4 linked regions of the Homo sapiens genome follow. The protein of the gene in region 1 interacts with the protein of each later gene in a pairwise test. Each region holds a gene or a part of one and is shown in the gene's direction. Other genes may lie near its edges.

Region 1 (4,015 bases):
CAGCACTTAGGATGCAAGGCTGCCTGCAGTGGAGTTCCTGGCAGAGACCCCATTTAAAGTCGCTTGTTCTGTAGTCAGCTTTTATAATCTATGCTTATTCTCATTCTGTCCTGTACTCTTCCCTTTCACCGCTCTTCAGCTTACACGGGTTCGTTTCAATACTGTCATCTCCCAGCTTCCCTTACACAAATTCTAGTGTTTGCTTTGAGACTTTAGCAGAGCCAGGGAACCTCCCGGCATGTTGGCTTTGAAGCGCCTGTTGTGTTTTGTATAATTAAAGGAAGAGGGGAGGGGGTGATAGGAAGAGGGAAGGAAAGCCCTGTCTGAGGAAGGCCCCGGAAGGGGAGACAAGGCACGGCGAATGAGTGCTCAGCGAGGGCTCCTGGGAGGGGGCTGCTGAGCGGCCGTGGGAGGAGGATGTGGGAACTGGGGACAAAGTCACCACTGCCCGTCCACACTGGCGTGGGAGCTGCCTTGCCAAGAGCAGTTGCATGAAATGCCACTTATTTGCTCAAGGGTTGTTTATTGAACATGCCAGTGCCAGGAGACTGGCGTGGAGCATGAGGCCGAGGCTGGCTGGAGTGGGTTTTGGGGAGTGTCAGGAGGCTGGTGTGGAGCGTGAGGCCGAGGCTGGCTGGAGTGCCAGGGGCTGCAGGGTCAGGTACTGGTCCAGCTTTTGGATGCTGGTGCTGTGAAGGGTGGTGGGTGAGGGAGCCAGCAGCTGAGTGGGCATGGGGAATTGCAGTTTTCCTTCTAGCCTTATTTTGGAAAATGCTAAACTTACAGGGCAATGGCAGTGGCCACCAGTGAGTGTCGGTGAGTCCTTCACCTCCACGGGGCTCCCCTCTTGGCCGTGAGTGTGCAGGCCTGGGGCATGTGCAGGCTGGCACTTCAGTCTCTGAAACCCTGCGCACTGAGGGGTCAGTCAGCTGGGCAGAGGGACCGCCAGGGCCACCCAGGGTCTGTCCTGACTGCCCACGGCCCTGTGTCTCAGCCCTGGTGCGCGTTCCCGCCCTCTTGCACGCCCGGATCTGGATGTGAATCACACAGGTGTGCGGGCATCGGGTGGATGGGCCATTTCTCCTGGGCCAGACTGAGCTCTGACCTGGGTGTGAACCTAGCAGCAGACATCCCCTGTAGGACAGTGGCCTGGAGCAGGCCCCTTGCAGGGCCTTCAAGGCAGGGCCAGCCCCTCAGACACAGCAGGGAGGCTGGTGATGACCTGGGCTCCAGGTTCTCAGCTTCATCTGGACCAACTGTGCTGTTCTATGTGAGTCCTGGGGCCCTGACCGAGTCTGGGGCTCCCTTCCTAGCAGACACTCAGACCTCGCCCAAGAGGCTTTGAGACTGACTTCCGCCCATATCCCTAGATGTTCCTACTACGGGGGATTTATTTCTCTCTGTTTCATTAGCTTCCTCTGTCCCTTTAGCCACGAGCCCAGCCCAGGTCTTCCTGCTGTGGGTCCCAGCTCTGAAAGTCACGTTGAATCATGGCCATGTTAGGAACTGGAGAAACCTAGGGCTCAGGGTACAGAGTTTCACTAGTTGGGCTTCTGTGTTGGGGCCTCCGTGGGCTGGCTTTGTGGCTTCAGGAGTCCTTGACGCTTGTTCTCAATGTGGGGGTGATATTGACCCTGAGAGGGCACAAGGGGTTCTTGGGGGAGGAAACTTCTGGGGTTTGGCGGCCGTGTGTGCCTCCCCAGCACAGCTCCTGGATTTCTTGCTCCTTAGTATTTCATTGTCCCTGGGTTTTCTGGGTGTCCCAGCACATGGATACGGAGTTCTCGGAAGCCCGCGACACATGTGCGATCTCAGACCTGCTGTGAGGTGGGTGGGGAGGGTGGGCAGGCGCCTGCGGATGCCGTTTGTGTGGGATCCTCAGTGCTGGTGTGAGACTCTGGCTTGGAGAATTGAATGAGAATCGTCGACATTTTGTGATTTAATTCCACAGAACGTATTTAGCCCATCGCTAATGATGTCAGTTTGCTGAAAGAATACCAGCCAGCCAGTTAAAAGGTACTTTCTCACATCAAGCAAAAGCTTCAGTTCACTAAGGATATTTTTTATTGTGTTTATATAAGTTGTTTATTTCTACGTGTGATTTGATACATTACAATTTATGTAAATAAATTACACTCAGCGCTGCTCAGCGCATAGTCATGAAGTGCTAGAAGCATTTTAGTTTTTAATTGAACTTCGTTCGACTTAGTTATGCTAACCTGGCGTTAGCGCTGAGACTCGTTGAGCCTTGCTTGCAGTGTTTACATGCCAAGTGCAGGTGCATGCGTGGCACACAGACACAAACAGCACCTCCACAGCCTCGCAGCGTCATGGGGTGGGAACGGTGAGAAGGTTTAAAAAGGCTCCGCAGGGGGCCAGTCATGGAAGTGGCCAGGAAACCCTGGTCTCCTGCCGCCTGCGTGTGGCCAGCCGTGCTTCAGGGGCGACTGTGGTGCGGCTCCTTGGGGTGATGTCTCCTGGCAGGCGTGAGGCCAGGACTGCATGTGTTCAGGACTCCACGTCCTGGGCTGAGCTGGGCTCTTCCGGGGCTCTGTCAAGGCAGAAAGTGTGGCCCAAGGAAGCAGCGGCACTCTCAGTCGGAAACGTATTCCTAACAGGTGTCGGGCAGAAAGTGTGGCCCAAGGAAGCAGCGGCTCTCTCCGTTGGAGACGTGTCACCAACAGGAATATTCACAGTGGGTGTTTAATTTGTGTGCTTAAAAAGAAAAATTAGCTTTGGATTGACTACACACATTGCATGACAAAAAAGAAGAATTAAGACTTTATTTCTGTGCCAAAACTAAAACTTAGACTTGAAGAGAAATTGTTTTAAATAGAAGTGAATGTTGGAGACCTCTTTTCTTTCGTGTGGAAAGGTACGCTGCAGTGGTTTAGAGCTCTGGCGTCAGTGAGGGAGGAATGGTCGTCAGTCACAGGCTTGCGTCGTGATCCTCTGAGAGCGGCACATGGGGGAGGAGAATCAGCAATTCCAAGAAATTTGAAGTTACATTTTAAAACTATATTTAAAACAGACTAATATTTATAAAAGTAGCTTTTATTTTCAGAGAAGATAAAATGCTGTGAGCTCTGTGGGATGAGAGCCCTACCCTGTCCTTTTTATTTTAAAAGTAATTCACGAATGTTTTTAAAAAGTTTCTAAAAATAACTAGCAGGATATAAAAGTATAAATAAATTGAAATAGAATCTTCCCTGCCTGTTTCCCTCGAGTTCCATTCCTGAATGCTCCTCCAGAGTTGGTGTCGACAGAGGCCTCCTTATGGCTCCCTGCAGCAGGTCGTGCCGCACCTCCGCCTCCGCCTCCGTCCCCCGAGTCTCCATGTGTTCGCGGCAGGGACCGCCGGCTCCTGGTGAGGCCGCGTGGCGATGCGCTGGGTGGATGTGCCTGGCTGGTGGACGGGGCGTTTTGACGGCACAGGTGACGCAGCCTCAGGCATCCTGTGCTCACGTGCCCGAGTGAGCATTGACAGGGGACTGGCTCCTGAAGTGGAATTGTTGGCCTTCACACGGGCATTTAGACTTGTTAGTGTTGAACTCAGTATGTGCATCTTGTACATGGAAGCAAAATTCTAGAAAAATATCCATTATGTATCGGGAGTAATCATTTTTGTTTTCATATTTCCAAGCCTTTGAACCAGGGTAAAGCATATATTTTTATGTGACCATTGAAATAGTTCCTCCATCATCATATGGCAAAAATAAATTTTAGGATTAGCACTGAATTTAAAAAATAAATTCAAAATAGACATTTACTGAAGGACCGAGTGTCGTCACTGAAACGATAGGGTTTACTTCAGCACCTGGACTCTCTCCCCTGTGACTCGTGAAGCATGAACTGGTAGCACTCCCTCCTCGTTTGAAGGGCTTTGCTCTAAGTTGAGAAACGAGGGCATTGCAGCAGCAGGCAAGCCGCCTCTCCCTGGTAGGCGGGGCAGCAGGTTGCGTAACCAGTATTTGTACGGGGAGGACTGAAGCCTGGTCTCCGTCTCCTCTCTTGC
Region 2 (4,015 bases), on another chromosome or scaffold:
GGTGCTGCGGTGAGTGGGGCCAGGGCTGGGGGCCCAGGTGCTTCCCATCTACATCTTCTGCTCTGGCTTGGGAGAGACCTGGGTGGGATCCATGGTCCATGTAGCTATCTTTGGTTGGGGCTTGCAGGAGGCCAAGCTTCTACCTGGTCCTAGTCCCATCTGCAAAAGTGAGCAAGGGGTGGACCAGGCCTTCCAGCTCTCCATGATAGTAATGTCTGGGGGCTTGGGGTGGCCAGGAAGTCCCAGGTGCCCAGGCCTGTCCTACAAGGCAGTTCTGTGACTGGGATAGGAGGCCCTCCACTCCCCAGTTTCTGGCTCCTGGGAGAATGGGGTGCTGACCGTTAAGCTGAGGCTGTGTGAATATCACAGAAACCTGGACAGTGAGAGCCAAGAGGGACTGTAGCCGTCACCTTGTACAAGAGTTTTTCATTTGGCTTCCTGGAACCACAGGGCAGCTGCATCTTCATCTGTTTTACATCCTGGGAATCTCAGCAAGAGAAAATTCAACAAAAGCGTTCTTTGCCTAAAACTTTGAAAACCACTGATGTGATCAGGGACCTTATTTTAGAGATGAAGCTAAAGAGGCCAGAGAAGACAATGACTTGCTCAAGGTCACAGCCCACAAGACACAATAGATTTGAGAAGCAGAGTCCAGGCCTGCAACTCTGGAGCCAGGACGGTGCCCCAAGCAGCCTGGGCAGTGTGTGGGCAGGACCTAGGGTCTCATGATGAAGGAGGGAGACTTCTGGGGAATGGGACCTGTGACGGGGCTCTTGGGCCAGTGGGTGGAGGGTGACTCAGACCAGTTGACCCTCAAGACCAAGCTGAGCTCCCCAGCTCGTCTACCTGCAGGTACCTGGGCCAGCTGGACGACAGTGAGTTTGAGAGAGCCCTGCAGAAGCTGCAGCTGACCAGGAGCATCTGGACCATCGACCTGGCCTACCTGATGCACCACTTTGGCGTGAGGCACCGCTTCTGTACCCAGACCCTGGGTGTCGACAAGGGCTACAAGAACCAGGTGAGCGACCAGCCACCAGGCCTTCCCATGTGGGGCCACACAGAGGTATAAGGCCACCTGGTTCCAGTAGTTGGAAGAGGGAACAGTCAAGGGCTAGACACCCAGGTAGATACCCAGGTGTGCAGAGACCAGGGAGCAGCAGCAGAGAGGCTATAGGCAGGATTTGGGAGCCAGTCAGAGCAGGTGCCCTTGCAGTCGGGCCTGCCCAGAGGATCTGAGTACTGAGTCCTGGCTCCTGTCCACCTGCCTTCTACAGCCCTCAGAATGTGCAGAGGCCACTTCCTACGTTCTTTCCTACTGTCCTCAGCACAAGGCAGGCCCAGGGCCTCTGAGAACATCACTGACCTCATCCGGCCATCATTTGCACATTTTTTTACTTTTCACCAGGAGAGCCAGCTTTTAAGCTATATAATTGGTAGTCTAGAAGAAAACCAAAATACCATCTTTTCTTTTTTTTGCCTTTTGAAAAATAATGCCAACATAGCCATGCCAGCAAAGTGTGTTCCGTGGACGACACCTAGCTAAGCCAAGCTGTAGCTGAGCTGTCCCAGGTGGTTCAGCCTCATCCCCCTTGCTTATTCGCTACGGGCTCCTGCTCATGCCTGCCAGAGTGTACAAGCCCAAGGGTGATCGATCCTCCCCAGAGAGCTGACCTGAGCCCAGCTGCCCACCCCTCTCTCAAGCATCATCCTCATGCCTCTGTGTGGTCCTGCTTCCCTGCTCCTGCTTAGGACAGACAGCTTTCTGATCTGGCTTGCTGCATGTACCGTCTGCCCTGGCAGGTGGGGCTCCTCTGCCCTCCTGCTGTCTCTGCCTCTGTAACACGCTCTTTATTTCCTTCATCTAAATGGAGTGAAGGCAGCCTGGGTGGTGGCCACTCCATCCCCCTCTTCTCTGTTCAGTCCTTCTACAGGAAGCACTTTGACACAGAAGAGACCCGGGTGAATCAGCTGTTTGCACAAGCAAAGGCCTGCAAGGTGCTGGTGGAGAAATGGTGAGCCCCCCAACTTTCCTACCTGCCCTTCCTCTCATGCCTGCTCACCCACAGATCTGCAGTGGGGAGGCCTCGGGATGGTGTTCAGGAAAGGCTAGGACTCTGGAGCCAGGCAGAACTGGCTACCCGGGTGGCTGTGGGCACTGACTTGCCCCCTTGAGCCTTGGTTTATGGAGCTCACTGGGGCTACATGACCCAGGCTCTGACCAGGGGTGGATCCTGAGCAGGTGCTGGAGGGATAGGTGAGTGAGAGAGATTGCACCCAGCCCTTGGGCTACTTGCAGAAAGACAGCATGGGACAGAACACAAGGCCCCTAATGAAAGGGCGATGGCCTAAGAGGAATGTGCTGGTGCAGTGATTGACAAGGGATGGGGAACAGGGAGGACCCAGTGTGTAAGGGCTGCTGTGACCTTACAAGGGCCTCCTCTTCTCATCTGTATGCATTGGGGCTGGATTCAGGAAGACTCTGGGTGCAGTTTGCCCAGATGTGGGTCACATTCTTTTCTGGGCTACGTGGGAGTGGGGCTCAGACCTGCTGCCTCTAGGTCCTGGACAGGCTCTTCTCAGATTTTCCCTTTCTTTGCGGATTTATATTTTCATTATTGACGTAGTATAATCACATGATAGGTGATTTAGAAAATGGGGGTTTGGGGGCCGGGCGCGGTGGCTCACGCCTGTAATCCCAGCACTTTGGGAGGCTGAGGTGGGCGGATCACGAGGTCAGGAGATCGAGACCATCCTGGCTAACACGGTGAAACCTTGTCTCTACTAAAAATACAAAAAATTAGTCGGGCGTGGTGGCAGGCGCCTGTAGTCCCAGCTACTCGGGAGGCTGAGGCAGGAGAATGGCCTGAACCCAGGAGGCGGAGCTTGCAGTGAGCCGAGATAGTGCCACTGCACTCCGGCCTGGGGGACAGAGCGAGACTCTGTCTGAATCTGCCCTCAAGGAAACAGAAAGGCAAATCCAGGATGTGGGACATTTTCCAAGAGTACTGCCCCGGGCTTTAAAAATCAACAAAACAGGCCGGGCACGGTGGCTCACGCTTGTAATCCCAGCACTTTGGGAGGCCGAGGCGGGCGGATCACGAGGTTAGGAGATCGAGATCATGGTGAAACCCCGTCTCTACTAAAAATACAAAAAATTAGCTGGGCGCAGTGGCGGGTGCCTGTAGTCCCAGCTACTCGGGAGGCTGAGGCAGGAGAATGGCATGAACCCAGGAGGCGGAGCTTGCAGTGAGCCGAGATCGCGCCACTGCACTCCAGCCTGGGCAACAGAGACAGACTCTGTCTCAAAAAAAAAAAGAATATAGTGGGGTGGGATCTCCATTCATACTATGACCACATGGGCACATGTTGGAAGGAAAGGCAGCAAATGTTTATTTAGCAGCCCTCAACAGGTGCTGTCTCCTTGAGTGGGAAAGCTGTTGCTATCTCTGCTTCTCGGGGGAGGAAACTGAGGAGGAGAGAGACACCCAAGGTCACCCCCAGCATCTTGGCCATGCCATGATCTGAACCCATGCTTGTTATTCCTTGAAGCCTGTAGTTTTTCCTTCCAGCCAAGCCCCTGCTTTTTCCCTATAGCTGAAATCCCACTCCTGTGCACTGCCACTGGGAACTCAGCCAGCTATTTTGTTTCAAAGACCAAATGGAAAAATGGCATGTTTCCTTGGCCAAGGCAGCAATCCAAACTGCCACGTGACTCAGCTGTGGCTGAAGCTGGGTCAGGCCACATGGTACTGATGCTGCCACTCCTAAGGAAGGCCCCAAGTGGGTGAGCAGCCCCTCCAGCAAAGATGCAGGAGCCCCTGGCCTAGAGCTCCCCCTGCCCACAGCCCCATCTGCCCTCTGTCCCTCTGGGTGTTTTCTTTTCTTTTCTTTTTTTTTTTTTTAAGAGACAGGGTCTTAATCTGTCATACAGGCTGTAGTGCTGTGGCGCAATATTGCAATACAGCTCACTGCTACAGCCCCAGGCTTAAGTGATCTTCTTGCCTCAGTCTCCCGA
Region 3 (4,015 bases), on another chromosome or scaffold:
GAATATCCCAGCAGATGAATCCTTCTGACCTCCAGACTTAGTAGGCACTTAGCAAGTCTTAGTTCTAGTTTCCTCCCATCCTGAGGATGAGGGGATGAAAACATACCGGGCTATCTTCTGTCTGTGTTGTCCCATTTTATTCCTCTGATTTTTCTGCTCCAAATTGAGGGGCAACATACAGTATGATTGTCAGTTAAAAAAATTTAAACAGGAGATACAAAAGGGTTTTGTTATTAGTTTCCTTAGAGATCAAATTGATTTAACATAAAAATTCACCGTTTTGCAAGTGAACAACTCATTTGGCATTTAGTGCATTCACATTGTGTAACCACTACCTCTGTGTTGTTCCAGAACATTTTCATCATCCCAAAAGGAAACTATGTACCCATTAAGCAGTTACTGCCCCCTACCCCTACCCGCTAACCCTTGATAACTGCCAGTCTGCTTTTGGTGTCTGTGGATTTACCTATTCTGGATATTCATATAAATGGAATCTTTACATATCTGTGAGCTTTTATGTTGGGTGTGATTGTCTTTTAATTGCTTGTATGCCTTTGGAACAGTCTTAAAATCATTTTTTTTTTTTTTTTTTTTTTTTTCAGGGAGTAGTGTACTATGAATACTTGGACTACAAGGTGGTGTTATAGTACATGTAGGTTTATAGATGAAAATGAACTAGACTTCATTGTGACGGTTCTTAACCTCACAGTGAAGGTCACTAAACCTCACTAAAGGTCATAGAATCCTTTAGGAATCAGGGCTTCATTTCAACCCCCGGTTGCTTCAAGTCAGTGGATCTCAGGATAAGAACACCTGATTTGAAATATTTTCTTTCCTTGAAACACACAAGTTAGATGAATCAACATGTTTGTCTTTATGACATTATTTCTTCTTGGTCCTGCCTTTTTCTACATATCCTTACTACTTTTGACTAGACGACTAGCCATCCTTGTACCTCTTTGCATTTTATTTATTTTTTTGAGACAGGGTCGCGAGGCTGGAGTGCAGTGCTGCAATCATGGCTCACTGCAGCCTTGACTTCCTAAGCTCAAGCCATCCGCCCACCTCAGCCTCCTGGGTAGCTGGGACTACAGGCGCATACCACCACGCCTGGCAAATTTTTGTATTTTTTTTGGAGAGACGGGGTTTTACCTTGTTACCCAGGCTGGCATCTTATTCCTGTGCTCAAGTGATCCACCCACCTCAGCCTCCCAGAGTGCCAGGATTACAGGGGTAAGCCACTGGGTCCGGCCCATCTCTTTGCATTTTAATCACTGAGTTCAATTTAAAAGTGGAACAAGGCCAGGCACAGTGGCTCAGGTCTGTTAATCCCAGCACTTTGGGAGATTGAGTTGGGCGGGTCACCTGAGGTCGGGAGTTCGAGACCAGCCTGACCAACATGAAGAAACCCCGTCTCTACTAAAAATACAAAATTAGCCGGGCATGGTGGCACATGCCTGTAGTCCCAGCTACCTGGGAGGCTGAGGCAGGAGAATCGCTTGAACCTGGGAGGTGGAGGTTGCAGTGAGCCAAGACTGCACCATTGCACTGCAGCCTGGGCAACAAGAGCAAAACCCTGTCTCAAAAAAAAAAAAAAAAAGAAAAGAAAAGTGGAACAAAAACTTCTACCAATAGGACCAGTATTGGATTTGACGTTGTTTTATTTATAAAATGATTTGTCATTAAGTTGCTGTTTCTACCTGCAAAGTTTCTAGATTCTTAGGGGCAAGGGTTGATTGTATTTGGTTCTTGGTAATGTGGACTATGTCTTTCCTATTGGCAAATAATTTTTACTATTAACTCTACAATGTCATTCTGAACTGTTATACGTAAGGTTATAATTATAGGCCTGTTTCTATGGGATAGCCATATTCTGATGTGTAAACATAACTGAAATATGTTAAATACTTTTTTTAAACTTGTTTACATTGTGTTGGGTTAATTTAAAAAAAGGCTTGAGCAGTAAGACTAACAGAAGTTCACATGTACTCAAAATTAATCTTTACGTCCCTTTTCTGCCTGCCTTATGTTCCCCAGATTTCATTAGATACAGTGTATTTTGGGTTATTGATGTTAAGTGTTTTTTAAAAAATACATCTCTAAAGTAGTATATACACTGAGTATAAAATGTGAGACTTTTCCATTTAAAGTTGGAAAAAAATTGCAACCTCAGGTCAGCTTTGTAGCTGATAAACTAGGAATGAGGAAGATTCAGTTGTTGAGAGGGCAGATGTCAACTAACACATCAGCAGTATCGAGCAAACATATTGACATAGCTGTTGGGTGTTAAGTTTCACATAAGTCATATTATCTTATGTGGTGAGAGGATGTTGGGGACAGCTGTGCCAAAACCTGATATCAGTAGTAGAGCCTGAGGTTGAGAACCAGGGTGGTAAAGGTAGAGGTGTGAATGTAAATGTACAGTTGTCTCTGGAATGTCTGCAGTTGGTACTAGATGTTTTTAGGTACATCAGGTTTTTAGGGCGGTCATGTGAGCACTCACCATAGACTGCTTTTCTCACTGGGTAGACAATAATGTATCTAGAGAATAGAGCAGCACTACCTAATGCCCTGCTTTTGTTCTGCTATTGTATTGAATCAGTTGCCTTATGAAATTGCACTTCAATTTGTGTACATAGATACGTCCTTAAAAAGACACAGGGTTAGATAAGAACACCATATTAAATCTGTGCTGTAATGTGTATTCCTGAATCCTAGACTCATATATCCAGCTGCCTATTCAGCATCTTTCCTGGAGTGTTTAAAAACTCAAGCTCATTTCAAGCTCAGTAATGCTAAAACAGAACTGATCTCTCCTTCAAATCTATTTTTTCCCAGGCTCTCATCTTGGTTGATGGCAAATTTCTCATTCCATTGCTTGTGCCAAAAGCCTTGGCCCTCCTTGATTCTTCTTTCTCTTATGCCCCACTTCTATTTCTGAGAAGATTCTTTGGCTCTACCTTCAAAATATATCTGTACTCTGACCACTTCTCACTATTCTTGTCCAAACCATGATCTACCCTTGCCTTTGCCCTCCGTACAATCTGCTGTCATCAGAGGAGCTAATTCTTCTCAGAACCCTCTAGTGATCACCTGTTTTACTTGGATTAAAAGCCAGAGTCCCTCAAAAACTCTACAAGGCCATCTACATGCTCTGTATTGCACACTTCAGCTTCCCTCCATATACTTTTGACCCTTGAATAACACAGGTCTGAACTGTGCGCGTCCACTTATACGTGAGTTTTCTACCAGCTCTGCCACCCCTGAGACAGCAAGAATAATGCCTCTTCTTCCTCCTCCCCCTCCTCAGCCTACTCAAGGTGAAGATGATGATGATGAAGACCTTTATGATGAGCCACTTTGACTTAATGAGTTGGTAAATGTATTTTCTCTTCCTTATGATTTTCTTAATAACATTTTCTTTTCTCTAATGTATTACAAGAATACAGTGTATAATACATATACAAATATGTGTTCGACTGTTTATGCTATTAGTAAGGCTTCCGGTCAACAGTAGGCTATCAGTATTTTGGGGGGAGTTAAAAGTTATACATGGATTTTCTACTGTGTGGGAGATTGGTCCCCCTAATCTCCATGTTGTTCAAGGGCCAAATATAGTTTATCTCTGAACTAATCTGTTTTCCACCTTTTCCATTTCATTCCAGCCACTCTTGCCACCTTTTTTTTTTTTCCTATAAATAAGCCTCAAGCCTTTTACTTGCTGTTTGCTCTGCCTGGATTGCTCTCCACCTTCGCTTCTTTTCTCATGTATTGCCTTCTCAATGAGGTCCTCCATGACTGCCGTATCTAAAATTTCATCCCTGTCCATTATCCCTCCCCACAGCATTAATTTTCTTCATAACACTTCTAATATGCTTCATCATCTTGTTTATTATTTGTCTCTCTCTACTCTAGAATTTAAGCTTCCTGAGGGCCAGTAATTTTATGTTTTGTTCAAAGCTGTATCTTAGTATGTACAACAGTGCCTGCTACATACATACTAGGCACTCAGGTA
Region 4 (2,818 bases), on another chromosome or scaffold:
TGCACCAGGGTCAACTGGCTGCCTCTGCCTCCTCCGCAGCAGGCCTCAGCCTGTTCTTCCCTGTCTCTGATTCAGATGTGATCTGGGCTGCTGCCTGATCCCCTGCCTCATCAATGACTTCAAGGATGTGACGCACACATGCCCCAGCTGCAAAGCCTACATCTACACGTACAAGCGCCTGTGCTAACGGAGCTGGGACTCGGGACTCCCCCGCCTGTCAGTCTGGCCCCCTGTGCTTTGCTCCCTGTGCTCAGTGGTCACTTTCCCGCTCCCACTTGGGGCTGGGAGCCGTGCCACCATCCCCTAGAAGTCCTGTCCTCTTCACCCTGCCCTACCTGAGCCGCTGACTCTTCTGGCAAAAATTCTGTTGGGATTTAAGGCCAAGGGTCAGTGGGTGGCAGGGGGCTGACAATGAGCTTGTGTGTTGTTGGTCTGCTTGGTGTGTGTGATCGGGAAGATAAGCTGGGAGGGGTCTCCTGCTGGGGTCCTGATGCCTCTGTTTCCAAACAAGGTACAGGTTCAGTCCAGACTCTTTCCCCCTGGGACCAACAGCAGCCAGAGCAGTTAGCCAGTTAGTCCCCAGGCCTGTGGCCACAGGCGTTTCTGACCTGCTGGGCCGAGAATGGGTAAGTTGTCTGGAGTCAGGTGGGCCCACGTAGGACAGGGTCACAAAGCCTGGGTTTGTTTCTGGGTACTTTGCGCCTCTGGGGTGCTAGAGGTGGGGCATGGTGGCTGGAAGTAAAACTGCCAACTCTGGCCCTCAGAACTCTCAGGTATAGAAGCCCAGGATGTCTAATACCCTGTCCCAGTGCCCGAGAGCTGCCTGGTGTCAGGTAGAGAGGACACTGTACCTGGGTGAATGATCAGACCCTGGTAGCTAAGAAGGAACTTGTCCCTTTGAGTCAGTGTGCAGACCCCCTTTCAGGCCATGCCTCTGTGAACCCTGTATTGCTGGGGCCGGAAGGAGCCCCTGAGCCTAGCCCCTTCCCGTCTGCCCTGTGTCCTCACTGCGTGTGGGTATGACCTCTGCCTGGTGGCTGGTGTATCCCAACTGGGCAAGAGATGGCAGAGGGTCCCCCTTGTGGGTGCGCTTGGATGTGCAGAGCCTTCTCCATGGATTTTCTTCCCTGTAAGTGCCGGGCCCCTCACCCCAGCTGACAGGCTGTTGCTGTGCCTGCTCACACCTGCTCCTGCAGGCACACTGGGCTAGGGACGAGGAAGGAGCAGCCACAAGTGGTAGAACTGCCTTGGTGGACACCAGCCTCGCCCTGTCTTTATTTCCTGAATGGTTTGTGAACTTGCTCACCTGGACCACTGTATCCTGCCACTGTCCTTCCTGGTCTCGCACTGCCACTGCATGGCCTCCTGTCACTGTGAATCGTGGCCCAGTCTCAGTTTGTAGTTTCTCATTAAATTGGCCCTTTCACTCCCCCGCCCTGGGCCTCTGCTCTCTTGCCTGGCTTCCTTCTTTTTTGAGGGAAAGAGGGTGGGGCTGCAGGCAGTCTACTGGCAGGACGGGAGGCTGAGTCCTCAGGGTCTCACACCCTCAGTGCTGATGCCATGCCAACTGCCTGGGACAACACCAACACGTAAGGACCTAATTAAACCAAACCAGAGTCGGGTGTAGACCAGCCCTGGGATTTCCAGCTGTGACTGGGCCAGGGCACACGTTGGTCTCGGCAGTGGCTGTAAGGTCACCTTCCTTCCTCTGATGCTGGTTTCAACCATCTATATATGGCATCCACGCATGGGATCTGCAAGCTGGAGCCCTCCTACCCGCAGGCTTGAGCACAGCATCATCCAGCCCTGGGGAGGCGCACCCTTAAGCAACACAGACTGGGCTGAGGCTGACAGGCAGAAGACTAACAGAGCGCAGTCTGCACACGCAGGTTCTGGGCGACCTCTGGCCCTGGCCATCTCTGCACTAACTCATCTGAATTATGAAGGTGGCAGTCTTGGTCAGTAGTTTAAAGAGTTTCCCTACTTTTTAACCCTTTTTGAAATAAAACTTTTACAGGTAGTAGATTCCTATTAATAAAATTATTTAAGTTCATGTTTCTCTTTTAGAGAATGAATTGTTTAAATACAAATATGTGCTTTTTTAAAACCCTTATTTTTAAATATATATATATATTTTAAAAAAACCTTTTAAGTAGGAAACCTCTAAGGTATTTCTGAGCTAAAAAATAGCAGTGCTGGATACACTTTAAAGATCTTTGCAAGACGGTTAGAGTGACTTTGCTTTGGAGACTAGAGGTGCTGGAGAGTAGACCCAGAGCAGGAGGTGGCTGCTGGGAGCCATGATGGACGATGTCCACTCCCCACACAGACATAACATGCCCTTGCTTCTGAGGGACTCTCCTATGGGGAGGTGGCTTGACCCACCCGGTGCCAGGAGGCAGGGAAGGAGGTAGCTTGCAAAGCCCACTTTATTGAGTGCTGGAGCATTTACACAGCGCGGAGGAGGAGATAAGCTGGGGCTGAGCAAACCGCACCCAAGGGGTTAGAGGGATTCTGGGTGAGAGGGATGAGCTCCCAAGGCCTCTGAGGCTTCCACCCACACCCACCCTCACTCCCAGGGTCCAAGAGAGGCCCAGAAGTTGTACAGCAGCATCCAGCAAGGCCCCCTCGCACAGCTTGGACTTACAGGCCACTCACCTCCAACAGGGGAGATAGTCACCCATGTACTGCAAAAACAGGGACTACCGGAAGCAGCCTAGGGCCCAGAAGTGTGGAAGCCTGGAGTAGAGCTGGGTCGGGGGCCAGGCTTGCTGCACTGTGCCGACTGCTCCCAGGGTGACGGCCTGTGCCCAGTGCG

The links.
Region 2: the proteins of TOLLIP (region 1) and GUCD1 interact in binary tests that used the Homo sapiens proteins (3 or more experiments, as listed by UniProt).
Region 3: the proteins of TOLLIP (region 1) and ZRANB1 interact in binary tests that used the Homo sapiens proteins (3 or more experiments, as listed by UniProt).
Region 4: the proteins of TOLLIP (region 1) and CDIP1 interact in binary tests that used the Homo sapiens proteins (3 or more experiments, as listed by UniProt).

What each region holds. Positions count from the first base shown.
Region 1 is NC_000011.10:1,299,230-1,303,244, reverse strand, and holds part of TOLLIP (toll-interacting protein), read left to right. Parts: intron 1-454; exon of another isoform or gene 455-661; intron 662-3,232; exon of another isoform or gene 3,233-3,367; intron 3,368-4,015. UniProt on the Homo sapiens protein: Component of the signaling pathway of IL-1 and Toll-like receptors. Inhibits cell activation by microbial products. Recruits IRAK1 to the IL-1 receptor complex. Inhibits IRAK1 phosphorylation and kinase activity.
Region 2 is NC_000022.11:24,544,911-24,548,925, reverse strand, and holds part of GUCD1 (protein GUCD1), read left to right. Parts: coding exon 1-9; intron 10-852; coding exon 853-1,018; intron 1,019-1,920; coding exon 1,921-2,012; intron 2,013-4,015.
Region 3 is NC_000010.11:124,944,836-124,948,850, forward strand, and holds part of ZRANB1 (ubiquitin thioesterase ZRANB1), read left to right. Parts: intron 1-4,015. UniProt on the Homo sapiens protein: Ubiquitin thioesterase, which specifically hydrolyzes 'Lys-29'-linked and 'Lys-33'-linked diubiquitin. Also cleaves 'Lys-63'-linked chains, but with 40-fold less efficiency compared to 'Lys-29'-linked ones.
Region 4 is NC_000016.10:4,509,941-4,512,758, reverse strand, and holds the end of CDIP1 (cell death-inducing p53-target protein 1), read left to right. Parts: intron 1-75; coding exon 76-187; 3' UTR 188-2,090; downstream 2,091-2,818. UniProt on the Homo sapiens protein: Acts as an important p53/TP53-apoptotic effector. Regulates TNF-alpha-mediated apoptosis in a p53/TP53-dependent manner.